2 separate regions of the Homo sapiens genome follow, and region 2 is linked to region 1. Evidence: fine-mapped expression QTL. A gene starts in region 1. The other region holds a variant in brackets. All regions are shown on one strand. Distances are between the middles of the regions.

Region 1 (5,369 bases):
GCCACAAGTAAACTGGAGTTAACCACTCCCGGCTGCCAGCCTAAGAAAAACAGGGAAGCTTGAGGTCTCCTGTCAGGTTTCTGCATTTGCTGGAGCACTTCTGGACCTCTGCTTGCTACCTTAAGTCCAGAACCCATGCTGACCATACCTAAACCTCTGCAGCTTGGCTTATGGAAAAAGTTCATTCATTTCTACAAGGCAAATGACACAATGAAAGGTGGAGAACTGCTTATTAGTGTTCACTTGGGGTGTATTAAGGAGAATAGCAGGCCTATGGCTTCAGAGTTTTTAAAGAAAAAGGGGAAACTTGCTTTTAGTTTGGACAGTTTGTGTACAGGTGTTTCCAAGTCAGGGTCTGATTAACTGAGACTTCCTGTGCAATTCCTAGCACAGACTCTAGCCTATAGAGGAGTCTCAGCAAATGACAGTGGAGTCTGAATCTCAGTCTCAGGGTGTTACTAGAAATCTGTAAGCTAGAGACTTAGAACAGGAAGAAGTCAAGGGAAAACATAAAATGGTAAACAGAGCTGGGCCTGCTCTAGCCACTTGCATTTTTCATAAAACTGCAACAAATGAAAAGCTCTAGCATTGTGCTGGTTGGAGAATCTGGACCCAGAGAGCAGGCTGGGAGGCGGAACAGCTGGGGCCTGGTCCTGAACTCCATGGCATCTCCCCAGACCCTCTGGTCACCTAAATTCTCAAAATCCCAAGGCCACTCTCAACCACTATCTTTCTCTTGCTATGATCAAAGGGTCTGCTCCTGCCTCCCCATATCCCTTTCAGCCTCTCAGCTTGGACCCTGGGCTTCCTGGGACTTGTGACTCAGCAGCCAAAGTTAAAGTTTTCCTGAGCTAACAACTAGAACTCATCTTCTGATGCAGCCTGCAGGGAAGGCATAGTAATTCATCTGGGCCTGCCGACTCTCACCCCTCAGGCTTTTCTCACCCTCAACCTGGCCATCCAGGCACCTGTCATTCCAGATTATGGGTATCTCTGTGGAGTCAGAACACCTGTGCCTCCCCCTACCAAGATGTGCTGCACACATACAGCCCTGCCCCACTTCCAGCAACTTCCACCGTCACCCCCAGCATTTCTGCCCTGAACAGACAGGAGAGTCAGCTTCCATCCCAGATGGAACTCCACAGGTATGTTCTCACCCTCTAGGCTCTGAGGGTCAGGACCAGCATTAAGGCTCCACTGGAGATGGATCATTGGTGGAAAAGACGGAAGGGAGCTGGGGAGTAGGGAGAGGCAGGAAGAGGCTCCCTGATAGGGAAAATTCTGTGTCTGGTGTGTATGCGTGGTGTAGGAGGGGATGGCACCAGAGAACCAGAGTCTTATAATAATAACTTGTTAGGCCTAATGTGTTCTGCGAATCTCCAAGGCAGGGAATCAACTTCCCCAACCTCCATCTCTGTACCACCCTCTAAAAGTTCTTTATGTCTAACCTCAGTCCCTTCTGCTGCAGTGATCAAACCATTGACTAAACATTGCCACAACTAGGGACAGCAGCGCCTCCTACGACCCTCACAGGGCTCAGGTGGGCTCCGCTCACCCCAAGGCTGGATACAGCCCCCTCACACACACAAGCCTCCCCTTGGCCCACCGCCCCCTCCCCCGAACTGCTCCTCACGGGTATCTACCTCTATATACGACCTTTAACCTCAAGTGAAAGAAAACAGGACCCTGGGACCTGCAGCCGCTGGGGAGTTTACCCCACCTGTACCTGCTCCCAGAACCGCCGGTCCCTGGCTTCTCGTCCCTGGAGCAGCGCGTGGGGACCAAATTCCCGCCTCTGGCAGCCCCTTTCTCCCCTTCCCGCGCCAGCGGTGCAGAGCCACTGAGCAACTCCCGAGTGCTCCTAGGCCCAGCGCTACTGGGGTCGGGGTGGGGGAATAAGGAGGGATGGAGCCTGCAGAGTCTCCTGGAACCCCGGCGTCCTGGTCCTTGCAGGATCTCCCCACCCCCACTCCGCATTATCTCCAGGCCTCTCACTCCCCCAGCCCCTCCCCCATGGAGGGGACGCGACCCAGTACTCCCTCCCGCCCCGGACCCTCCAGATATCGGGACAAAGAAGCCCCGCGGCAGCCGGCGAGCGTGGCTGCCGGGCACTGGTGCAGCAGGTAAATACCCTGGGCCGGCCGCCACGTCGCCGACCCTCCCGCAGCTCCCGCCGCCAGGGCGCGACACGCCATTCCCCCTGCCGCGACTCCCCGGAGACGCCGCAGCTGCGCGCCAGGGTCCAGCCCGGCGGGGATCGGGCTCGGGACTCACCCGCTCCGGCGAGCTCGACTCAGCTCGGGCTCCCGCCTCGGCTAGGCAGCCGCCTGGGGCTGCGTCCCGCGCAGGGTCAGCGCGGATCGGGCAGGAGGCGCCCTCTTGGCAAAGTCGGCTAGAGGCGCCAGCTCAGTCGCGCACCGGCCCCGAGTCCGAGTCCGAGAGGGACGGAGGGAGCGAGTTATAGGGGCGAGAGGGGGTGGGGGAAGGACGCCGCAACACCCTCATACCCTCCCCCACCCCGCCCCCTGTCCCCCGCCCCCCAGCGGAGACGCGGAAAACCACTCGCAGCCGGAGAGACACCCGGACACAAAGACCTCGTGCCAGCCGCAGACCCAAGTTTCTCCCGGAGAGACTGGGGGTCCGCCCGCGTTCACCGCGAGAACACACAAACGGACGGACAGACCGACGCACGGACCCGGGGACCTCGACACTCGCTAGGAGGCAAGCCCTATTCCTCAGCCGGGCGCCCCTCGTCTCCCGCTCTCTCCATGGACCCCTCTCCTGGCAAATCGCCCGCAGAGCGAGCTTGGAGATGCGAGGGAAACTGAAGCCCCAAGGGTGCCCCGTCCTGGGAGCCTGGCTGTCTGCGGGGTCCCCCGCATTCCGCAGTAGTAATACAGGAGGGCCGGGGGCTTCTACCCCAACCTCCGCTCCCCTTCGGGTCTCTCCTGGCTGTGCAAGCGATGGGCCAGAGGGCTGGACGAGGCTGGCTCCCAATCCAGAATCCCGAGCTGGGGAGTTCTCTCTAGGTTCTGGGGCTCCTGGGACCGGGGCTTTGGGGAAGGGAGATCGCAGGACGGATATCCAGGAAGGGAGGGGGCCCTGGGTCTCCCGTTACCTGCGCCTGCCGCGCTGGGACTCCGCTCTGGGGGCTGCAGCTCGAAGCTCCGACAAGTCTCCACGTCCAGCCCGAGAGGGGGCGGCCGGGCCCGGCACAGCGAGGCGAGGACCGCGAGCGCCTCCTGGCACCGAGGCCCGCCGGCCCCCCACACTCCGCTCATGCCCTAGACACCCAGGCTTGCCGAGCAGCAGCTCGAACCCGCGCCCCGGCCGCACTGGGGCGGGGCACGACGGCCCCAAGAAGACCCTCCCTGCAGCGGCCCCCTGCGGCTCCGCTCTGCTTTTAATCACTTCCCCGCAGGGTCCCCGCCCCTCACGTGGCATCCCGCGGCAGCTGGCGAGTCTGGCGCCTCGCGGCCGCCCCCTCTACACTCAGGGACTGGCCTGAGTCCGGGGGGTGGGGGTTTCGAGGCGGGAAGCCGGGCTGTCCCGAATCTCGGAGGGTGCAAGGCCAGGAAAGAGTCCGGGTTCCCACTCCGCATTCACTGCCTGGTGTGACCTTGGGCGTCTCTGAGCCTCAATTTTCCTCTCCGTAAAGGAGGTGTAATGATTTTAAGTACTTCACGGACTCCCTGGGGATAGAAAGATCGTGTTTGTGAAAACACTGGGTAAACTGCCACATGCCACACGAATGACAGAGAAATAGATAACCCCGTAACAGAAAGAGCGACGGTCAGGCAGGGTCTGGGAGGACCTTGGCCGAGGTTCCTGACGGGAGCAGTTAGACTGGCCCCCGAGTCCCAGCTTCGGAGGTAGAAGACCCCAAGACAGGCGGGCGATGCGAACTGCAAGACTTTCCGAGCTCCGCAATCCTGCGGTCCGCGGTACCCGCATGTTGCTATGGCGACGGGAGGCAGCGGCCGTCTCTCTCCATGGCAACGGGAGGGAAAAGTTTCTGGCAAACAGGAATGGGGGGTCATTTCAAGAGGGCGCAGGGCGCTCAGTTCCGCCGACCCACCTCCTTGCTTCGGTGAAACAGCACCAGAGATCATGTATCTTTCTGCTAAGCATAACAAGAAAGACAGAAAGCTCAACGGGAGGATTGAGGCTAGACTTAAAGTAGAGATCCCCTCAGAAACTGTGGAGTGAGGCCCAGGAACAGATCGGCTGAGAGGCTTCGAGCTGCCTCACTCAGCGCTGGAAGTCTGTGAGCCATGGTCAGGGAGGCCGGGGGACCAGCGCCCTGCAGGGGCCTATCTCGGGAGTCTCTTGATCTACACCTGTCGGCGGTGGGGCCCCTTCTGTGTGGGGCTCGCCTGAAGCCCCAGACTCAGGTCCATTTGCTCTCCCGGAGCTGGGAAGGAAGCTTTAGCTGCAGCCCCTGGAGGCTGCTGGGTTGGTGTATGCCCGAGTGGCTGGCGAGGGAGAAAGGTCTTGCCTCTTAATTAACACGCTTATTGGAAGTGACTCGGGCAGTGACTCACGTTCCGGAGGGAGGAGATTCGGAGCCTTAGCTCCTGGCGGTCTCCACTGCGCGCCATCTGTGCCAACCGGCCCTTGGACTTGCGATCCCCTAGCAGCTGGTGCCTGGGGCACCAAGGGCTAAGGCAAGGCCTGTGAGGACCCTGGCCCAGCCAGGCGGCTTTTCCACCGTGAGGCGCCCCCTGGCTCTGTCCACGGTGCTGAAGACCCAGTTGGTGCTACCATCGCGTGGGCATAAGTTTAGGGGACGAGGGAGAGGCAATTGTTGAAGGTTCGCAGCTTCCACCCTGACCCCTGTGCCTGTGATAGCAGAAGGCTAGGAACTCAGGCAGGGACCAAGCAGACACGACGCAGGCGATACTGTGCAATCCGGGCTGCCTTCCTGCTGGAGGTGTTTGGTTGCTGTTCCAAGAACAAGTGGGGCTCTGGCATCCCTATGCGCCTTCCTGGTGCTTCTGAAAACCCACCTGAGGAGCCTAGAGGCCCCATTAATTTCTTTTCCATCACCCGATGCAGATCTCAGCACCCAGAAGAGCCTCTGGCTAAACGCTTATTAGCAGTTTCCCAAGTGGCAGGTTTGTGTTTATGTAAAATACAAATGGAGAACTGCTCTTTGCCCGTGTTTATGGCAACTCTGTCACTCCCCTGCTATTTCTCCCTCCCCCTCGCGAGTTCCTGGGGGAAATTCACAGAACAAAGCACCTTGTTTTGCCTTTGCAGAGAATGAAAAAACACAGGACCATTCCAAGGGCCCAGACCTGTGATGCAGGGAAATCAATATTTTGCTTACATCGAGTGGGGGAATTTGCATCTAAACTGAAGGCAAA
Region 2 (5,369 bases), 49 kb before region 1:
AGGGGACACAAAGACCAGCAGTGTATTTCAGCCTCATTGTCATGGGAGCAATCAAAATCCAGCATTTAGAATGTGCTCACCACCCCTTTGTAGCATACTGGTCCTTATTATTATTTTGTGCTATTTTTAGTGTCATGGTTCTAGCAGATAGGCTTAGAGAATTGATTCAGGGCTAGTTTAGATCATTGAGAATAGGAAGATCCTGGGTTTTAGACATCAATGCCACACAATTCAAGAATAGGCAATTAATAAGCTCCATTCAATACCTAGCTTAGTCCAACATCGAATAAGTCTGGGCTGAGGGAAACCTCAAACTCATCCTCAAGAACAGGAGATCTAGTTCGAGAGGCTCCTAGCAAGTACACCCCCACTGCTTCACCCTTGGGCCAGGTTCCTCATGCTGTAAATTCAACCATCCATTCATTCGGTATCTATTTATTGAATGCTTACTGTGTTTTATCCACTGTTCCAGATACTTGCTTACATCAATGAACAAAATAGACAGAAACTTGTAATGAAAAGAAGACCCCTGGATCTTCGGAATCAAGCCAAGGTTTAATAACAGGTTCCAAACCCAGGTCAAAAAGAGGGGCAATTGTGAAAGGGAGGTTAGAACTTAGCAAGAACAAAATCTCACACCCCAAACCCTCTGATTCAGAGCAGCTTTTGTGATGACCTCAGCAGCTTCACCATAGGCTTTCTCTCCAGCACATCAATTTAATTACACCAGAGAAGATAGTGTGGGGACTTAGGCAGCAAAATCCTATTTCCCTCAGCAGCCTTGAGAGTCTTCAGTGAATTTTCTTCCCTGTTATGCACTTATTTTGGTATTAAAATGAAATCTACATTGGCTGTATTTTAGGGGAAGCTGACTTGCTGCTGCCTAAGCTTTTCCCAGGCCAGAAGAGGTCCGTTAATCTCTTCCCCACATCCTGATGTGTGTGGGTAGCTCTGAGGGACTCAGAGCTGCAACAAACACATGTTACTCTAGGGTTTCCTGAGCACCTTGTCCTGAAACTTCAGTTTTCAAGGCCTGATACCTCCTCTTCTTCCAGTTGCACCAGGTTACACCTGAGCCCAGGTGTTTTCGGCTGGGCCATCACCTCTTTCCAGCAACTGATTATACCCAAGACTCAAGCTACTCCTCTGTTATTTCCAAACTCAAATACCTTCTTCCACAACTTAGGGGGTTTCCAGCAAATAAATAAAGAATACAAAGCAAATATGAGGAAAAATCTTTAATATATTCCCAGCTAAGTTCAGAAGCACCTCCTGAGTGGTTTTACGTTGGTAATCTGAATCATCGAGAGTCTCTTGAGCAGGAGGACAGGGGATCTAGGGAAACAAACTGAGCTTTTTTCCACATTTGCAATTCTGAGTGCAGCCCAGACCAAGAGGCTTCACCCCATTTCACTCCTCAGAGCAGTCTGAGCTGATGAGGGAAGGAGGCTCCCAAGACTCAAGCTACTCCTCTGTTATTTCCAAACTCAAATACCTCCTTCCACAACTTGCAGAATTGTGGGGAAAGACTCAAACCTCTGACACTACGTCCATCCTGCAGGTCTCTGTGCAGCTGCCCCCAAACAAGCATTTCCTCTGTCGCTAGAATAAGACTATATTTCTATGTTCCTGCTGTACCTAGCAGCTCTCTTGGTGCTGAGGCTGAGGCCAGGAGGCCTGCAGCAAAGCCTCAAATACAAATGCATTTTGCTTTTCAGTGGATTTGTTTCCTTGGCTCAGTGCACAGAATTGCTGCCATAAGCCTGCATAGACCGGCAAACATTTACACACTCAAACGACATAACCCTGGGGCCTCACATAAATAAGAAAACTTATCCTTAATTTTTAAATCCTATATATTTACTTCTTGTTATCTCCCTCTTCTAAGAGAAAGAATGACAGCAACAGATGATATCTACTGAGTGCTTATATGTGTAAGGCACCATTCTGAACATTTACATGAATTAACTCATTTCTCCTGAAAGCAACCCATGTAAGATATTATTACTCCCACTTTTCAGACTAGAAAACCAAATCATTTACACAGCAAAGAAGTGGCAGAACTGGAATTCGAATCCAGGCAGTTTGTGTCCAGAGCTGGTGCTTCTATTCTAAGAATGCTGACAATTCTTTCTCCTTCTCCCCGAACACCCTTCCAAATCCTAATGTCTGGGCTGCTGGCAGGCCACTTGGGTTAAGAGAGGTACCTGAATAGCCTGTGATGTCCATCGCCTTGAGGTTCCGACACTTAATCACTGTGAGGGTGAGCCTGCCTGCAGTGGGCAGGTAGCAAAGGGAGAACATGATCTCTCCCAAGTCCACGCTTTCCTGCAAAGAAGCACACAAGAGGGCAGATGAGGGGCTTGCAGACCATGGGCCTCATGTCCAGTGCAGTATCTGCTGGGGCGCTCTGGGGTCAGGAGGAGGCTCTTGGAGACACTGTGCTGTGTTTTTAAGACTAAGGGACTGGCCTCCATGCTGCAAGTAACAGGGTATAAAAGGCAATGGAAACAATATTGCCTCTTCAGTACAATTTGCCCCTTCCAATATTCCCTCTCAATGTCAACCACATTCTGACCCTGGTCCTTGCTGTTCTGCTTTTGGCCTGACTTGATCTCCATGCGCCCCTTGGCTGCAGCCTCAAACCACCAGCCCCTTTGTGGCCTCTTCCTGTTCTCCTCCAGCCCACCCTTCTCAGTCACTGACCCCCTTGACTTCCTGCCCATCCAGGCATGTGGTCATGACAGTGTCCTGGACAAGACACATGCTCTAGACTTCAGCTGTCCCCTCTCCCAGCAGGTCCATGATTCTTTTCTTCTTCTGCCCCTCAGTGCAGTTGTTCTTTGTCAATCACAGCCAACCAAGGAGACAAACACTTTCCATCCCATCTGATG[G/A]CAAGTGTTTGATGCCAGGCCTCAGGTCCACTTTCTCTTTTCTCCTTAAATGTGGTCATCCTTTAAAAATAAACCCAGCACAGAGCACACGCTCTGCTGCCTCTCCTAACCCCAGAATTGTCATGGCCAGGGATTCCTGGGAGTTTCTGAGAGAACAGGAAAACCTCAAAGACAGTAAGCACACCCATCTGTGGCATTAAACAGTGCCTTGCCAGGTTGCTTCCTCCATTTGATGAAGGAGGGCGCTGTCACGGTGAAGCCTCCTCCCACAGGTTTGAGGAGGGACTCCAAGATATGGAGACATTTCCTCCCATAGGGCTTCCAGAGTCAGGTTTGAGGAGGAAGAGGTCAGCGTTTAGGGTGATTTCAGATGAGGCCCTCCATCCATCCATCCATTCAGTAATTCAGTCAGTTAACAACTATTTATTGAGCACCTGTTATGTGCTAAGTGTTGATCTGAGTGCTAAGGATATAGGAGAGAACAAAACAGACAAAAATCCCTGTTTTCATGGAACTTAAAAAATAAATTTCAACTTAAAAAAAATTCCACCTTTTATTTTAGGTTCAGATTCAGAGGGTACATATAGAGGTTTGTAACATGGGTATATTGCATGATGCTGAGGTTTGGGGTACAGATGATCCTGCCACCCAGGTAGTGAGCATAGCACCCAACAGTTAGCTTTTCAAACCTTGCCCCCTCCCTCCCTCCCGACTCTAGTAGTCCCCAGTGTCTATTGTTGCCATCTTTACGAGTGGAGCTTACATTTTATTAGGGCAAAGGACAATAAAGGAGGTAAGTATATAAGTTAGATAGTCAAAAGTATCAAGGAGAACAAAAGGCAGAGAAGTGGAATATAAAATGACCAGCAGGAGGCTACAGTTGTTGAATGTTTAGCTAGAGAAGACCTCTCTAAGGAGATAATGACTTCTGGGAGAGAGAAGAGTCGAGGGTGACACCAGGGTTTTTGTCCATTCTCCTTGCAAAGAGCCACCCTCTCCTGGAGACTCCTACAGCCCTGTTCCCCCCCTGGAGAATAAGCCAAGGCCCTGTCTCCCCCTACCTCCAGAGCCTGCGCTCACCGCACTCTCCTCTAGGCAGCCCTGACACCCTCACCCTCTTTTCCTAGCCCTAGATTTGTCTTTTTGTCCAGGCCCCCGAAAAAAGTCACCCCCCAAATCAAATTCTAGGAACAGCAGAAGGTGAATACCCCCAGCTTCCCAGGAAGGGCCTGGCTGGGGCCAGGGCGGGGCACACTGTGGAGACAGCCACCCCTCCTGCACACAGAACCACGTGGCCTCCGCAGAGCCAGCCATCCCACACCAGCCCCTGTGAAGCGCCTCCATGAAGATCACTTCCAGCTGTGAGGCTCTCAGCAACTCTGCGAGGCAGGCTTGTTGGCATTTTCCCCTCCATTTCACGGACGAATAACTTGCTCAGGTTTACAAGCCTTGCCAGCTGCTTGGACTCGTGACTCTCGAGAGAGTGGTCCTTGCACTCCGCTTTTGAGCAATGCCCTTCCAGCTCATCTAGGAAGCTGCTCAAGGGAACCCTCACCCTTCTGCACCTTGGCTTACATTCCATCCACTTGTTCATTTTTGTTTCCATTCGTATTTACAGAGTGCCTGCCAGAGGCACCATGCTTTGTGGAGAGTATGCAGTCCCCACCCTCGACATGCAGATGGTCTAGCGGGGCGTAACCAGTTAAAAGAAGGTGCTGGAGTCCCCATCTCACTCAGGTGCATCTCCTGGCTCCCTAGTCCCCTAGTCAAGAGAGAGACACATAGCAAGTGCCCTGTGCCCTGGCATGGGTCCTGCGGCAGGGGGCAGATCAGCATCACATCTGGCTAAATATTCCATGTCTCACATAGGCACTGAGGTGTAAAGAGAAGCCCCTTTATTTCCCTTAATAACCCTTCAAGCCCCAAGTTACTGAAACTCTTTAGATTCAGTGAGCACAGTACTAGGAACCAACCCATTGCACATGGACTGTGTGCCAGGCCTCTGCTAAGTACTTTGCTAGATTATCTCGGTGAGTCTTACCTCAGCCCTGCGAGGTAGGTGCTCTCTCTCTCATCATCCCTATTGCACACAGGAGAAAATTAGTGTTTGGTGAAGTTAAATAACTGGCCCAAGGCTGTGTGACTAGTGAGTGCTTTGGTGCCAGATTTTCATATATCCTTGCCACTGCTCAAACCCCTTCAGTGGTTCCCCTTGTTTGGCTTCTGGGATCAAGGCTCATCTTCTTAGCTTGCACTTGGGGCTTTCAGCAACTGGGCCCTGTCCTACCTCCTCACCTGCTGCTCTCTCCCTTCTCTGTGCCAACCCTCTGCTCCACATGGCTGGTATATTGTTGGTCCTTCTTGTCAAAATGCCTCCCCTTCTCCTCTTTGCTTGGATACTCCTATACCTACATCATGCCCCCACACCACACCCCCATGGACCCTTGCCCAGGGTCCAGCCCACAGTAAGCATCT

Direction of the effects. Alleles are on the strand shown, and positions count from the first base shown. SD is a standard deviation of normalised expression in the study named.
For the expression in skeletal muscle of the gene that starts at base 3,378 in region 1, G is the low allele of the variant in region 2 and A is the other (moderate effect, 0.52 SD a copy in GTEx).

The links. PIP is the estimated chance that this variant, and not a neighbour inherited with it, causes the effect. A credible set is the group of variants that fine-mapping cannot tell apart.
Region 2: its variant is the best candidate, but not a certain one, in a credible set for the expression of SYT6 in skeletal muscle (GTEx, PIP 0.55).

What each region holds. Positions count from the first base shown.
Region 1 is chr1:114,150,492-114,155,860 of GRCh38, forward strand. SYT6 (synaptotagmin 6) reads right to left here and starts at 3,378. Exons shown (of 8, transcript NM_001253772.2): 1 at 3,119-3,378. The coding sequence starts at 3,281. RefSeq lists an enhancer at 4,553-5,166.
Region 2 is chr1:114,101,394-114,106,762 of GRCh38, forward strand. SYT6 (synaptotagmin 6) reads right to left here. Exons shown (of 8, transcript NM_001253772.2): 4 at 2,208-2,328. Among named protein-coding and RNA genes, the nearest start is that of SYT6, 50 kb to the right of the region's middle. RefSeq lists an enhancer at 3,502-4,149. The variant G/A (reference allele first, on the strand shown) is at 2,895.